Linked DNA regions of Homo sapiens. The protein of the gene in region 1 interacts with the protein of each later gene in a biochemical or structural test. Each region holds a gene or a part of one and is shown in the gene's direction. Other genes may lie near its edges.

What was found. Proteins that work in one complex are often made in the same cells at the same time.
Region 2: of the proteins of RB1 (region 1) and CDK9, one has a biochemical effect on the other in vitro, tested with the Homo sapiens proteins (4 studies listed by BioGRID, with this or other methods).
Region 3: of the proteins of RB1 (region 1) and CCND2, one has a biochemical effect on the other in vitro, tested with the Homo sapiens proteins (4 studies listed by BioGRID).
Region 4: the proteins of RB1 (region 1) and MRPS18B form a complex in vitro, tested with the Homo sapiens proteins (2 studies listed by BioGRID and IntAct).

Annotation. Positions count from the first base shown.
Region 1 is NC_000013.11:48,310,251-48,313,750, forward strand, and holds part of RB1 (retinoblastoma-associated protein), read left to right. Parts: intron 1-3,500. UniProt on the Homo sapiens protein: Tumor suppressor that is a key regulator of the G1/S transition of the cell cycle. The hypophosphorylated form binds transcription regulators of the E2F family, preventing transcription of E2F-responsive genes.
Region 2 is NC_000009.12:127,784,555-127,788,833, forward strand, and holds the start of CDK9 (cyclin-dependent kinase 9), read left to right. Parts: upstream 1-1,479; 5' UTR 1,480-1,594; coding exon 1,595-1,686; intron 1,687-2,146; coding exon 2,147-2,228; intron 2,229-2,963; coding exon 2,964-3,054; intron 3,055-3,392; coding exon 3,393-3,559; intron 3,560-3,659; coding exon 3,660-3,831; intron 3,832-3,989; coding exon 3,990-4,138; intron 4,139-4,279. UniProt on the Homo sapiens protein: Protein kinase involved in the regulation of transcription.
Region 3 is NC_000012.12:4,280,262-4,283,761, forward strand, and holds part of CCND2 (G1/S-specific cyclin-D2), read left to right. Parts: intron 1-3,500. UniProt on the Homo sapiens protein: Regulatory component of the cyclin D2-CDK4 (DC) complex that phosphorylates and inhibits members of the retinoblastoma (RB) protein family including RB1 and regulates the cell-cycle during G(1)/S transition.
Region 4 is NC_000006.12:30,620,840-30,623,865, forward strand, and holds part of MRPS18B (small ribosomal subunit protein mS40), read left to right. Parts: intron 1-1,992; coding exon 1,993-2,059; intron 2,060-3,026.

The DNA of each region.
Region 1 (3,500 bases):
TAAATGTGTTTCCAGTGCAGCTATTCTAGTGGCAGTTGTCTCTCTTCTTTGAAACAAGAGGAGGAATATTGTCAAAAAGGAAACCCTTTTTAACAATAGAAAGTAGGTGATGTTTATTGGGATAGAGGATGGGTTAAGAGCAAGGATTAAGAGTCAAACAGATATACCATGTCCGAACTCCATTATCTTGAACATGTTATCTACAATTTTCAAGCCTTAGTTTTCTTACCTGTAAAAGGGACTGACAGTAATTTCTGGATCTTGGAGTTATGTGCAGATTAAATAAATTAATGCATATAAAGCTCTTATTAGAGTCAATGAGTATGTATATTAGGTCTTGCAAACAGAATAATTTTACTTAAGAAATACCCCAGAAAATTTTATCATTGATGTATTTTTTTTTAGGAGAACTTAGGATATCAGTTAAAATGGTTACAATTTTAAATGCATTGTAGTGATTTTGATGTAGTAATGTTTGTTAAAATTCTTATTTTTAAGTACTTTAGCATCAGAAAAGTTGTTTATGCATACATGAAAGCATATATTAATCCCTTTAAAGGAAAAGTTTGTGGTATTTTGTCTAGAAAAGTGTTTTCTTTTTTTAAAATAAATATTTAGTAAAGTGTAATAATAAAGATTAGCTTTGTTCATAAGGTTAGATTGTATTTATGCTGATTATAGCATATGAATAGGACTTTCCATTAAGAAATTGGCTAAGGTGATGTTCATATTGTGACTTAAGGTGAATCAGCTGTTAGAATTTTGGTTTACTTTCTGCATCTTGATTGGTAGTATGGTAGAATGGAAAATGCCTTGGACCTCAAGGCAGGAAACTTTGGTTGTAATTATATTGTAGCTATATGATTTTAGGCAAATTGGTTAATTCTGTGAGTCTCAGTTTGCTCACCTGTAAGGCAGAAATAATGCCTGAATGTGAACCTCATAGGCTTTTTGTTATACATACATATATATGTATATGAAATGTATGATATACATATCTCAAAGAGCTTTGGGATATATTGCTCTTGATAGAACCACTTACTTATTTTTGTGATATGGTGGTTATATTTTAAATAAATACAGTCATGTGTTGCTTAACAATGGGAACACATCTGAGAAATGCATCATTAGGTGATTTCATCGTTGTGTGAACATCATAGCATGTACTTACACAAACCTGGATGGTATAGCCTATGACACACCTATGCTGTGTGGTATATAGCATGTTGCTCCTAGTCTGCAAATGTGTACAGCATGTTACTGTACTGAACATTGTAGGCAATTGTAACACAATGGTAAGTATTTGTATATCTATACATAGAAAAGGTACAGTAGATCATCCATATCCTTACTGATTTTCTTTCTATGTGTTTTACTAATTATTGAGGGAGAAATATGAAGCCTCCAACTATAATTAGAATGGTCCTTTTAAATTCTGTTTTTTATTAATGTATTTTTTATTTTATTTTATTTTGAGATGGAGTCTTGCTCTGTCACCCAGGCTGGAGTGCGTGGCACGATCTCGGCTCACTGCAACCTCTGCCTCCCGGGTCCAAGCGATTCTCCTGTCTCAGCCTCCCGAGTAGCTGGGATTATAGGCATGCGCCACCACACCCGGCTAATTTTTGTATTTTTAGTAGAGACGGGGTTTCACCGTGTTAGTCAGGCTGGTCTCGAACTCCTGACCTCATGATCTGCCCTCGGCCTCCCAAAGTGCTGGCATTACAGGCGTGAGCCACTGTGCCTGGCCTTTATTAGTGTATTTTAAAGCTTTATCCTTGGGTACATACAAGTTTAGAATTTTTATGCCTTTTAGGTAAATTGGTACCTTTATCATTATGTAATGTGCTTTTTTATCCAAATTTATATCTTTTGTTCTGCAGTGTCCACATATCGATTCCACTTTTCTTGTGATCACTCTTTACAATGTGTATCGTTTACCTTCATTTTGATTTTAACCTATTTCTTTTTTATATTTAAATGGATTTTTGTTGTTTTGTAATCAGCATTCATTAAAAATTTTTAGCTGAATACTTTTTACTTTTGTTAGGGTTCCCTGTGTCTCTTCCTTTCATGTTGTGCCACAGATGAGCCATTATTTATATCTTTTCTCTCATTGGAGGTTCCTTTTTTTAGGGGAAATTAAATAATCTGAAATATAAGGAAAGGATATGTTGATTTCAAGAAAGGTTGTTTTTGTTCCTTATCTGGCTTGTTCTTGTTGTGAGGGTGGGAGCAATACTCTTTGCAGCTTTCTGCATTCTAGGAAGAAGTGGAATTTTACACTACCATTTGCTTTCTTTACAGGTTTACCTTGGTATTCAGTGTCTGTCCATAGGACTAATTAAAACTATACCAGACTCCTTCTATTTTAAACCTATCCGTTCAGTCTCAAGTTATCTTTTTGCATTGCCTCTCACGTCTGTCCCTTCATTTCTTTTACCAGCAGTGCTTGGTTTTTACTGTTTGCTTTGGTTTTAATTTCCTTTTTATTTTTTTAATTTCAGAAGGTGGAAGCTTATGTCATTGACTTGAGCATTTTTTATGCATGTTTTAGTGCCTCTTTCTGACTAGTCTCTTCTTTTCTCCATCCAATCCATCCTGTGCCTGATTTTTAGAAAAGACTGGTGTACAGTTTGCCCCTTTTGCTTTAAAATTTATTTTTCATTGTTACAACCCACTCTCAGTAGCCTCCATTGTAACACCCTCCCATGCTCCCACCACCATTATGAAGAAGTAAAGTCCAAACTTTCTCAGTATTTGTAGTTCTTCATGGTCTGTGCTTTAACCTTCCTTCCAGTCTTATTTTTTATTTCCATTGTTGGCCCCCAATGCCTGTGTTCTCTTCCCTTCCATATGAATCTTCCATATGAATATCTTCCATATGAATATGATAGTATTCATATTCATGCGATCTCCCCTTTTTTTGGAATACCCTTCTTTTTTCTTTTAGCCTAAATTCTGTTTTTAAGATGCAGTTAAAGCTTCTCCTTTATGCATATCTCTTATAAGATATATTATTTGCAGACTTTTCCCCCCATTCTGTGAGTTGCCTTTTCACTTTCTTGATGATGTCATTTGCAGCGTAGGATTTTAATTTTGATGAAGTCCAGTTTTCTATTTTTTTTTTGGTGGTGGTTTTTTTTTTGGTTGCTTGGGCTTTTGATGTTGTATCTAAGAAGGCCTTGACTAACCCAAGGTCATGAAGACTTATTCTGTGCTTTCTTCTAAAAGTCATATGGTTTTTAGTTCTTGTCAGTCTTGGGTTTTTTTTTGTTTTTTTTTTTTGAGTTAATTTTTGTGTATGATGTGAGGAAGAGGTCTAACTCCAGTCTTTTGAATGTGGATATCCAGTTGTCTCTGCACCACTTATGGAAAAGACTATTCTTTCTTCATTGAATTGTTTTGGTGCCCTTGATGAAAATCAGTTGACTATAAAAACCAGGGTTTATTTCTGGAGTCTCAGTTCTATTCCATTGCTCTGTATGTTTATTCTTTTT
Region 2 (4,279 bases), on another chromosome or scaffold:
CGGGGCAGAGGAGGCAGAAAAGACGGCTTTGCTGGAGGCTGTCCTTGGGCAGAGCTGGAGGGGGAATCTGGGGGCCGCTGGAGCCAGGAAGATGCGAGGGAAGGGATGGGCGCGATGGGGGAGGGAGATGGGGGGGGTGAACGGTGAGCTCGCGCCTGCATAAGGACAGCAGGCCTCCCCACTGCTATCCTCCTGGCCCAACAGCGAATAGCGTGAGTCAAGAGAATCCCCTCACTCAGACACCCAGGTTCGGGTCCCAACTTTGTCGCCGTGTGACCTTGGGCAAATGACCTCACCTCTGAGCCTCAACGTCTTCTTCTGCAAAATGGGTTAGTGATCCTGACTATGGGGCTGTTGATTCAGGATTCGGCGGGAACGCCCAGCACTTCCTGAGTACACAAGAGTGCTGAGAAAATGGTAGCTGTTTTTTGCGATTACTGACTCGGGGCCCGACCAGCTCTGGCACGACTCAGCGGAGGTGGGAGTCCTGCGGGTCCCATCCCTGCCTCCCGGAGAGCCAGACCCCAGCGATAGAAGGCCCGGGCGTTGCTTGCTCGTCGCCGCTAGTGCCGCCGCGCCCCCTGGCGGCCGTCGGTTGCCATGTCAACGGAGGGTGGCGGGGACCGGGGGAGGCGGAGGCGGGGGCCGTTCTCTCCTCCCAGGGCCGGAGGACGCTCCCTCCGCGCCTCCCGCCTTCGCCTCTGTGGGGGCACTCCGAGCCGGGGAGGAAGGGGCTTTCCGCTGCAGCCGACATGTGGGGGTAAACTGAGGCACGCGGCAGGGCGCCCGCAGCCAGGTGCCGAGCGCGGGGCCCCACCTCCGAAGGCGGAGGAGGGGCCGCGGGCGGTGACGCGCCGAGGGCGGCCGGCGGACAGCGAGCGGGCGGGCGGTGGCGGCGGCGGCAGGTGCGGCCGCGGAGGGTGGGAGGGAGGAGGGCGGGGGCGGGCGGAGGAGGAGGGGAGGGCGAGGCCGGGCACCTCCCCCTTTATAACGCGCCCCCTCCTGGGCTCTCGGGCCGTCTCCTAGTCGGCTCTTCCCGTCTCGCCCCCTCGCCCGGCCGCCCCGGGCCCGGGTCCGGCCAGGGAGCTCCCAGGCCGCGGCTCGGGGGCTGACCCCCCGCCCGCCGCCCCGCGCAGCCCGGCGGAGGCGGCGCCGTCGGAGGAGGAGGAGCAGGGCACTGCGGCTGGCCCCGGATCGGGCGCCAGAGCGGCAGCAGCTTCGGCAGCAGCGGCGGCCCGGGCCCATGCAGCGGGACGCGCCACCCCGAGCCCCAGCTCCGGCGCCCCGGCTCCCCGCGCCCCCGATCGGGGCCGCCGCTAGTAGTGGCGGCGGCGGAGGCGGGGGCAGCGGCGGCGGCGGCGGAGGCGCCTCTGCAGCTCCGGCTCCCCCTGGCCTCTCGGGAACTACAAGTCCCAGGGGGCCTGGCGGTGGGCGGCGGGCGGAAGAGGCGGGGTCGGCGCCGCGAGGCCGGAAGTGGCCGTGGAGGCGGAAGTGGCGCGGCCGCGGAGGGGCCTGGAGTGCGGCGGCGGCGGGACCCGGAGCAGGAGCGGCGGCAGCAGCGACTGGGGGCGGCGGCGGCGCGTTGGAGGCGGCCATGGCAAAGCAGTACGACTCGGTGGAGTGCCCTTTTTGTGATGAAGTTTCCAAATACGAGAAGCTCGCCAAGATCGGCCAAGGCACCTTCGGGTAAGGCTGGGCCCCTCGGGGCCGGGAGCCCTGGGCCTGCACCCCTAGGGCCGACGTCGGGATGCCCGGGCCCCCCCCGAGTTGGTAGAGAAGTCGTCTGTCCCCGGGCTTGCCTGCTGGTCTCTAGGCCGCGCCGCACCCCGCCCCGGCCTGACGGAGCCGGCTGGTGGGGAGGAGCCTGAGGCCCGTGGTGGGGGCGGGGAGGGGCTGCAGAGAGGCGCCCGTGAGGGGAGCGGGATCTCTCCAAGGGACGCCCAAGTGAGGAGAAGGGACTGAGGGAAGGAAGCAGAGGCTCCGAACGAGACAGGCTGCCGGGTGGCGGGGTAGCCGCGTGCCCTGGGTACCTAGCCCAGCCCCGCCCGGGAATCTCTTTGCTGCTGCCCCTCCTCCTGTAGTGGGGGAGGGGCGGGCCCTGCGGAAATGGCCTGATGAGTTCTCGGGTCTCCCTTTCCGCCTGCAGGGAGGTGTTCAAGGCCAGGCACCGCAAGACCGGCCAGAAGGTGGCTCTGAAGAAGGTGCTGATGGAAAACGAGAAGGAGGGGGTGAGTACGGATCGGGCGTGCGGGCCGGCCGGCTAACTGCCCGGGACCCCGGGTCGGTTTTCCACCCTGCTGCTTCTGGGAGTCTCAGGTTGAGATTTAATTTTTTTGTAGTAGTTCAGAAATTTCCAGGGAATGTGGCTTCCACCCTAAAACTAAATGTTTCATTCTTAGGCAGTTATGGGTGAGGCCAGGAGGGGGAGTTGATGCATGCATCGTGTGCACTTTATTTCACGAAGTTAGGAAGCCTTTAAACACCTTTTTTTAGTGTTAAATTTCGCTTAATGTAAAAGAAAGATTATATATGCATGCTTTTTGAAAGGTGTCTGATACTCAATTATTTAATGTATTTAAAAGGAGCGGTCCCTTCTCCACCCCATCTTAGCTCTAGTACAACTTCCCATAAACCTTCTTTTGCGTAATGTGCATTAGCAAGGACATTTTTAAATCATCATGTTTGTTGCCAACGAAACAGCCATAGAGCTGAAATTTGAAGACTGAAACCGCCGAGCGTTTAGTGGCTAATAGCAAAGTATTGCTGTTTCAGTTTGTTGTCTCAAACCATCATCTTGAAGTGTGCATGCTACTAATATCCATTTTATAGACAAGGCTTCTGAGACAGCTGGTTTCAGAGCCCATGATCTTGCTCTGTCTCCCAACTTGGCTGTCAGTACAGACCCCAGGGCTGGGCTCTGTACTGCGCTCACTCTTGACCACTTTCCCCTCTTTCTCACCCAGTTCCCCATTACAGCCTTGCGGGAGATCAAGATCCTTCAGCTTCTAAAACACGAGAATGTGGTCAACTTGATTGAGATTTGTCGAACCAAAGGTAAGTTATTTGGTTCTTACGAGAAGATGACACTTGTAGCCTAAGGTTTTGTTTGTAAACTTGGAACTAGGCACACCTAAACTGCCTCTTCTTAACTCAGATGGACCCATGGTGACTGCTTTTTCTGGTCCTCTTTCATCGTAGCTGGTGCTTCCTCGGGGCCTGCCCTGGCCCAGAAGAGGCACTCAGAAAATATTTGACCGGTGAAGGAAGGAACAGACAGATGCTCTGGAGGGCATGGGTGCCCGTGGGTTGGAGCAGGAAGAAAGAAGCTGGTTGTGGGAAAGTGTGTTGGGTGTGGTTTTCTTGACTTTTTCTTCTTTCTATTCCTGCCTCAGCTTCCCCCTATAACCGCTGCAAGGGTAGTATATACCTGGTGTTCGACTTCTGCGAGCATGACCTTGCTGGGCTGTTGAGCAATGTTTTGGTCAAGTTCACGCTGTCTGAGATCAAGAGGGTGATGCAGATGCTGCTTAACGGCCTCTACTACATCCACAGAAACAAGGTGGGGGCCAGAGCTGGGAGGAGGACCCAGGCTTGGGCTGGTCTTGGCTCCCACTCCCGGGTGGATGTCACTAAAGGACCCACTCTTGCCCTTCCTGCAGATCCTGCATAGGGACATGAAGGCTGCTAATGTGCTTATCACTCGTGATGGGGTCCTGAAGCTGGCAGACTTTGGGCTGGCCCGGGCCTTCAGCCTGGCCAAGAACAGCCAGCCCAACCGCTACACCAACCGTGTGGTGACACTCTGGTACCGGCCCCCGGAGCTGTTGCTCGGTGAGGACTCCCGAGCGGGCCAAGGGGGGTGAGGGCCAGGCATCTACCTGGCCCCTTCCCCCCAACTGCCAGGGCTTCTTGAGCTGCCGGCCCTGGGGCATTGAGCCTCAGGAGGCCCTCGGGCTCAAGGGGCCCTCCTGGTGCGCTCTTCTTCCCAGGGGAGCGGGACTACGGCCCCCCCATTGACCTGTGGGGTGCTGGGTGCATCATGGCAGAGATGTGGACCCGCAGCCCCATCATGCAGGGCAACACGGAGCAGCACCAACTCGCCCTCATCAGTCAGCTCTGCGGCTCCATCACCCCTGAGGTACGGGGCCCCGGTCCCCACGGGGTGCAGAGATCGAGGTCCCCCGGCAGAGGAGGAGTGGGGAGTAGAATGGAAGGAGCGCTCCTCTCTGGAAGGGAGGCTGGTTTGGTGACAGGGCCTGTCTTGGGGTGGGGAGTGTGT
Region 3 (3,500 bases), on another chromosome or scaffold:
TGTTCCGACTAAAGTGGATATGATGGCTTTCCTTTTCTGGCTGCCCTTACGTGTTTCTAGCAGGACCTGTGTGTTCTGCACTTGCAGGCTTGAGTGTGGAGTCCTCCCGGCCCCCTGCCTGTTCATCTAGGGCACAGGTTTCCCCTTGCTGGTTTTCTGTAGTCCTGTTCTCCTGGATGCAGGCCAGGCCTCATGGCGTGCACATGCGCCCTGTGCCCCTTGGTGGGAGAGTCCGTTATCCTTCCTGCAGCCCTGGGGGCGGTTCTTAGGACCCCTGTGGACCCCTGCTGCCTTTTGGATAGTGGTCACTCTGGCTTCCTTCCCTTCTGCTGTCTGGCCCGGGCCCGAGAGGTCAGTCCTCCAGTGACCTGTCATTTTGTCTCCCAGGCTCGGCTGTCTCCTTCCTCTCTCATCATGATTCACTGTGGGGGAGGGGTCAGCCAGTTCTTTCTCTCTGGCCCAAGGACAGCTGACCCCCGACCCTAAACTCCCCCACTGCCCAGCTGTTGATAGCCAGAGCTCTGCTCAACACTGTCTCTTGACTAACAGATCTTTTGGGGTCTAACTGCCCCTTCCTCCTCTCTGATCTCTGATTGGGGTAGGGGTGCTGGGTGGAGTTACCGGGGTGTGGGCAGATCCCCAGATTCCGTCTAGACCCATTCTCGAAAACCGGGGATCCCATCCCCCACCCGTGGCCTTCTTGCCCAGATCTTTGGGCTGGCTGCCAGCTCCGGGGCCAGAGTAGGGAGCCTGGGATTCAGAGACTGAGGACAGAGGCCCAGAGGGATACAGAGGCAGTTATAAAGACTGTGTTTTGGGGGCCTTGAACTAGCTTTGGTCAGGGACTAGGAAAGGACACCCCCAAACCACATGAAAATGGTGTGCTAGGCACTAAGCCTCAGGCGTTGACAGGGCAGAGCACAGGTAGGTCCTCGGCAGTTTCCTGGGTCTGGAAAGGAGGGGCCTGTATCGAAAGAAGTTGCTTTCCCTCATCTGCACTTGGGTTTGTGCAACTGACTGAGTCACATAGAATCCTGGCTGCGTGGAGTTTTACAACAGTCGGCCTCACAGTACAAACACCGAAGGCCGCTTTTCTTGAAGGAAACACCTTCCATGGAGAGGCGATTGTGCATTGTGGGGCCAGGGTGTGATGAATGGGCAAGGACCCAGGACTCTGGCCAGTAGCGGGCACAGAGTGACTGAGAGGCAGAGGTAGGAGATGCAGATTCCCCAACCCGAGCTGTTGCCCTCACCTGCTCCTCAAATCGCACACTTCCCTCCTTTTCTCGCAGTCCTGGATGTTCCGTCCTGGAGCTGATGAAACACCTGCGGCCAGGGTCTCGGAGGTCCACAGTGGGTGGAGGGTGGGGGTCCCGAGAGATGGCCGCCAACCCTCAGGCCGTGCAGCTATTTGATGGGAAAAGCTGGTTGTGAAAGAGCTGGCAGTGGTTCTGCAGTGTGTGGGGAGCGTATTTGTGTGTGAAAGGGGAAGGGAGAGCAGGAGAACATAGAGGGGCCGCGTAAGTGTGGCGAAGTGGCGGTCTTGCTTTATGGGGCTCTGGATTAAGATGGTGGCAAGGCGGAGAGGAGCCCTCCTTCCTTCCCTGCTCAGCCTAAAATGGCTTCTGGAAGAGCAAGGGCCGCAAGCTGCTGGTATCCCTCTGCAGCAGGTCCTGGGCAGTGCAGGCATGGGTGGGTTGGGCGGGGGATCTTCCTGACTACAGCTCCTAGCATTCCTGTTCCTGGAGTTTCCAAAACTGGGGAAGCAGAACTGAGCCATAGCTTCCCTGGTTGCCGCTCTGCTGATAGAACACCCAGGTCTGCAAGCGAGGAAAGAAGGCCATTGGAGATGACCTGGGTTCGCACTCTGGCACTGGGAGATTGTTGAGATGTGATACCATGCTCGGTGGATGATTCCAGTTAGTCTAGCAGAGCCAATGGCATTGAGTTTACACCTGGCACCGGGTAGGGGGAGGTGCTCACCCTCCCTCTCCAGGCACCCACATCCCCTCTTTCTTCACTAGAAGCCCACCCTAAGATGCTGCACCTTGGTATTTGTGCCACACACGGTAGCCACCCCCAGGCCTCCCCACGCCAAGGCCAGAGCCCCATTGTTGACTAGAACCCATTGTGCTGTCCTAGCCCCTTCCCTGGCTTTACCTACAGGTGTTCCCTCAGATTCCATCGCCAAGTGAGAGGGAGACAGTGGTGGCCCAGAGAAGTTCGATGACTTGGCCCTTGATCTAGAGTGGGAGATTTCGCCTTGATGGGTGCTGGGAAGGAAGAATGGAAACCCGTCTTTCCATCTGCAAGTCTCTGAGCTACCCCTGAAGCCGCGAGGTCATGGGACTGAGGGGGAGTCGTTAGCATGCCCTGTGGGGACAAGCAGCCAGGCAGTGTGGTGCTTGCCATCGCTCTTCCCTCTGGCTGTAAGATGAATGGGTAGCAGGCTGCTCATCGCCCTCCAACCAGCCCCCTCCCCAGCTCCTCCCAGCAGGCCTTGCAGTTGCATGGGCATTCCCTTGCCATGGCAGCCCTGCCCCACAAGGACAGGGTATGCTGGTCCTCTTATGGGGGTGGCAGATGAGGTGCGTGCCCAGTGACGTCCCTGGCCTGTGAACACTCTGGTTCTGGCCCTTTGAACTTCCACCTGACTGCAGGTTGGAGAAGAGAGATGGGGAAAGCCTGACCTGGCCTTCCCTTTCTTCTTCAGCGTCAGAGTGCGTATCTCTCTCCCCCTATTGGTGAACAGAAGCAAAGCCATCACCCCTGCACCCCAAGACCTCGGCCACCATAGCCAAAATGATGGGTGCTAAATGTACTGGGCAGGACCATGTATTCCGTGGTTTTAAACTTACTTAGCTCTGAACTCTTTATTTGGTAAAATCCTACCAAGAAGTGCAGATACCAAGTTGATGAAATGGAGCACTTCTCAGGGCCCATGCCCAGGTGAGGGAGCCCAGCGGGACCCCCAGAGGCTCCCAGGGCATCCTTGGGAGGATAAGCCTTTTGTGCTTGCTGGTGCCGGGGCTGCGGCTGGGACCCAATTCCTTTGATTCCTGAGCCAGAGCGCCACCTTTGGGGCTCTTCTCCCACTTCCGACGTGAAAGGCTGCCCTGTCCTCCTGAGTGGTATATGGGAGGTGACTTTGAGGAGCTGGTCAGCTTCCAGTAAGTTACGAAGAGCTCTGCATCCAGAGTCTCAAAGTCTCATCCGGATCCCAGGCCCAACACTCACAGTGAGTGACATCAGCCAGATCACTTCATCTCCCAAGACTTCATTGATTCACCTGTAAAAGGAGATGTTTGAAACAGATGAATTTCAAGCTCCTTTTTATTAATACCTCACCATCATCACCGCCGTCATAAGCAAGCATGCAGCCCACAGCAGAGCTGCCCCTGGCGCCTGTGGGTCCAGCTGGGATTCCCCTAAGGTGTGTCCTTTGCCTCCACCATTTTGCCAGGAGGGAGGCGGGAATGTCGGGTGTTCCTGGTTATCTG
Region 4 (3,026 bases), on another chromosome or scaffold:
TTACAGGTGTGAGCCACCACACCCAGCCAGCGAAATGGCTATTTCTAGTGGGAGAGCCAATATCCAAAGATTCGTTTGTATTCATTACAGTTATTACCAAATATATTGGCCCACTTTCTTCCTGAGGTTTTCTTTATTTCCTTGTCAATGTTCAGTGCCATGCTGGCACCTGGGGCTGGAGGGCAGGTATATGAAGCAAGATAGAGTCCATTATTTTTCAAAAAGCCTTCAATATGTGAGAAGGACAGGATTTGCTCCTTAAAGAATTTGAAAACATATTGGCTGGGTGCGGCGGCCCATGCCTGTAATGCTAGCACTTTGGGAGGCCCAGGCAGGTGCTTCACCTGAGGTCAGGAGTTTGAGACCAGCCTGGCCAACGTGGTGAAACCCTGTCTCTACTAAAAATACAAAAATTAGCCAGGCATGGTGGCAGGCGCCTATAATCCCAGCTACTTGGGAGGCTGAGGCAGGAGAATTGCTTGAACCCGGGAGGCGGAGGTTGCAGTGAGCTGAGATTGCACCACTGCACTCCAGCCTGGGCGAAAGAGTGAAACTCCTCAAAGAAAAACAAAACAAAAAGAATTTGAAAACATTATATCAATAAAACAGATAATGGGAAAGTGTTCTTCTGAGCTTGCAGCAAAAGTATTAGAGCAGAAGCTATATGGCTGATCATCAGGGAAGTAGTAGAGCATTTGGATAACAGTCAGAAAATGGGGGTATTTGACTGCAATAAGAACCCTTCTAACACAGGTTATTTAGGAGTCCCATAGATAATTTCCCAGTTTCAATTGCATATAATTGGTTATAAAAAGAGATTATGGCCAGGTGCGGTGGCTCATGCTTGTAATCCCAGCACTTTGGGAGGCCAAGGTGAGTGGATCACTTGAGGTCAGGAGTTTGAGACCAGCCTGGCCAACAAGGTGAAACGCCGTCTCTACTAAAAATACAAAAAAAATTAGCTGGGTGTGATGGCGGGCGCCTGTAGTCCCAGCTTCTCAGGAGGCTGAGGCAGGAGAATCACTGGAACCTGGGAGATGGAGGTTACAGTGAACCAAGATTGCACCACTGCACTCCAGCCTGAGCAGCAGAGCGAGACTCCGTCTCAAAAACAAAACAAAACAGAGATTATAATTAATTACATAACTGAGAGAGAGAAATGTTACAAATTTAGTAGCATGGGTGATTCTGCTTGCATTCTACTCTACAATGTACCTGCTTTTTTTTCAAGAGTCTCATTTCCTAGTTAATTTGCTGAGAGAGAGTTCTATGTAAATTGTAAAATTATTCTTAGTATATAAATTATATTCAGCATACTATTAAATACATTAGTTGTTTATACATACACATTACAATATCATTTTTTGGGTGATTTCTGGGATTTCCAATGACCAGCCCCAGTTTTTCACCTAAAGGCTGACGTTAGAACTTAACCTCTGCAGCCCAGGCGCGGTGGCTCATGCCTGTAATCCCAGCACTTTCTGAGGCCAAGGTGGGTGTATCACTAGGTCAGGAGTTCAAGGCCAGCTTGGCCAAGATGGTGAAACCGCATCTCTACTAAAGATACAAAATAATTAGCCAGGTGTGGTGGCAGGCGCCTGTAACCCCAGCTACTCGGGAGGCTAAGGCAGAGAATTGCTTGAACCTGGGAGGCGGAGGTTGTGGTGAGCTGAGATCGCGCCACTGCACTCCAGCCTGGGCAACACAGGGAGACTCTGTCTCAAAAAAAAAAAAAAAAAAAAAAAAAAGAACTTAACCTCTGCATAAGAGATTTCTATGGGAGCACAGTGACAGAATATGGGATGTGCAAGGATGGATTCAGTGAATTGATGAAGCCAAACTGGGACATGAAGGAGGATGGCATCTGGAGAGCTGTAGAGGGGTGAAGGTGGTCCATGTGGGTGTGTAGGGATTGTGTACTTTCGATGTCCAAAGATCCTGCTGCTCTCCCTGCCTCTTTTCCTCACGTTTCTCTACCACTTTCCCCCACAGAACGTGAAGCTCTTGGAGCAATTTGTCTGCGCCCACACGGGTATCATCTTCTATGCTCCATACACAGGTTAGCCCATCATCCCTGCACCACCAGAGAGCTTTTCCTTGTGGCATGCCTTGTTTATGTAGTTGGCCAATAGGTATTTGTTCAGTGGCTCCTGCTTATAGCCTAAAAGGTCTGGCTGAACCTTTTGGAAATCTTGGCTTGCTGGGGGCTAAAGTAATTAAATGTGGACAAAAGAAAACAACAAATACAGCCAGGCGTGGTGGCTCATGCCTGTAATCCCAGCACTTTGGGAGGCCGAGGCGGCTGGATCACCTGAGGTTGGGAGTTCGAGACCAGCCTGACCAACATGGAGAAACCCTGTGGTGATGCATGCCTGTAATCCCAGCTACTCAGGAGGCGGAGGCAGGAGAGTCGCTTGAACCCAGGAGGCACAGGTTGTGGTGAGCCAACATTGCGCCATTGCACTCCAGCCTGGGCATCAAGTGAAGCTCCATCTCAAAAAAAAAAAAGGAAAAAGAAAAAAACAAGTACTTCTGTAAGCAAACTATCTAAATGTAGTTTTTAATTGATAAACAGTGATTAATTCCTTTCTATAGGGTCTTTTAACTTTTACAAAAGACTTCTCACAAATTGTCACATAAGTTATTTTATATCATTGTCAATTGGATTAGATTTTCCAAACTTGGAATCGTAAATTTAACAATTCAGAATTATATTTATTCCCTAACTACAGTCACAGGGCAAATCTGGCCCACTGTCACGTCCATTTGTTTTCATATTTTCTGCAATTGCTTCCATGCTACAATGGCAGAGTTGAGTAGCTGAGACAGAGACCACAGGACCTGCAGAGTTTAAAATATTTACTATATGACTCTAGACAGAAAAATTTTGCTAACCCCTGCTCTGAAGCAAGACAAATTTGCAGAGAATAATTTTTTGTTGTTTTTTTTTTTTGAGACGAAGTTTCACTCTTGTTGCCCAGGCTGGAGTGCAATGGTGCAATCTTGCCTCACCACAACCTCTGCCT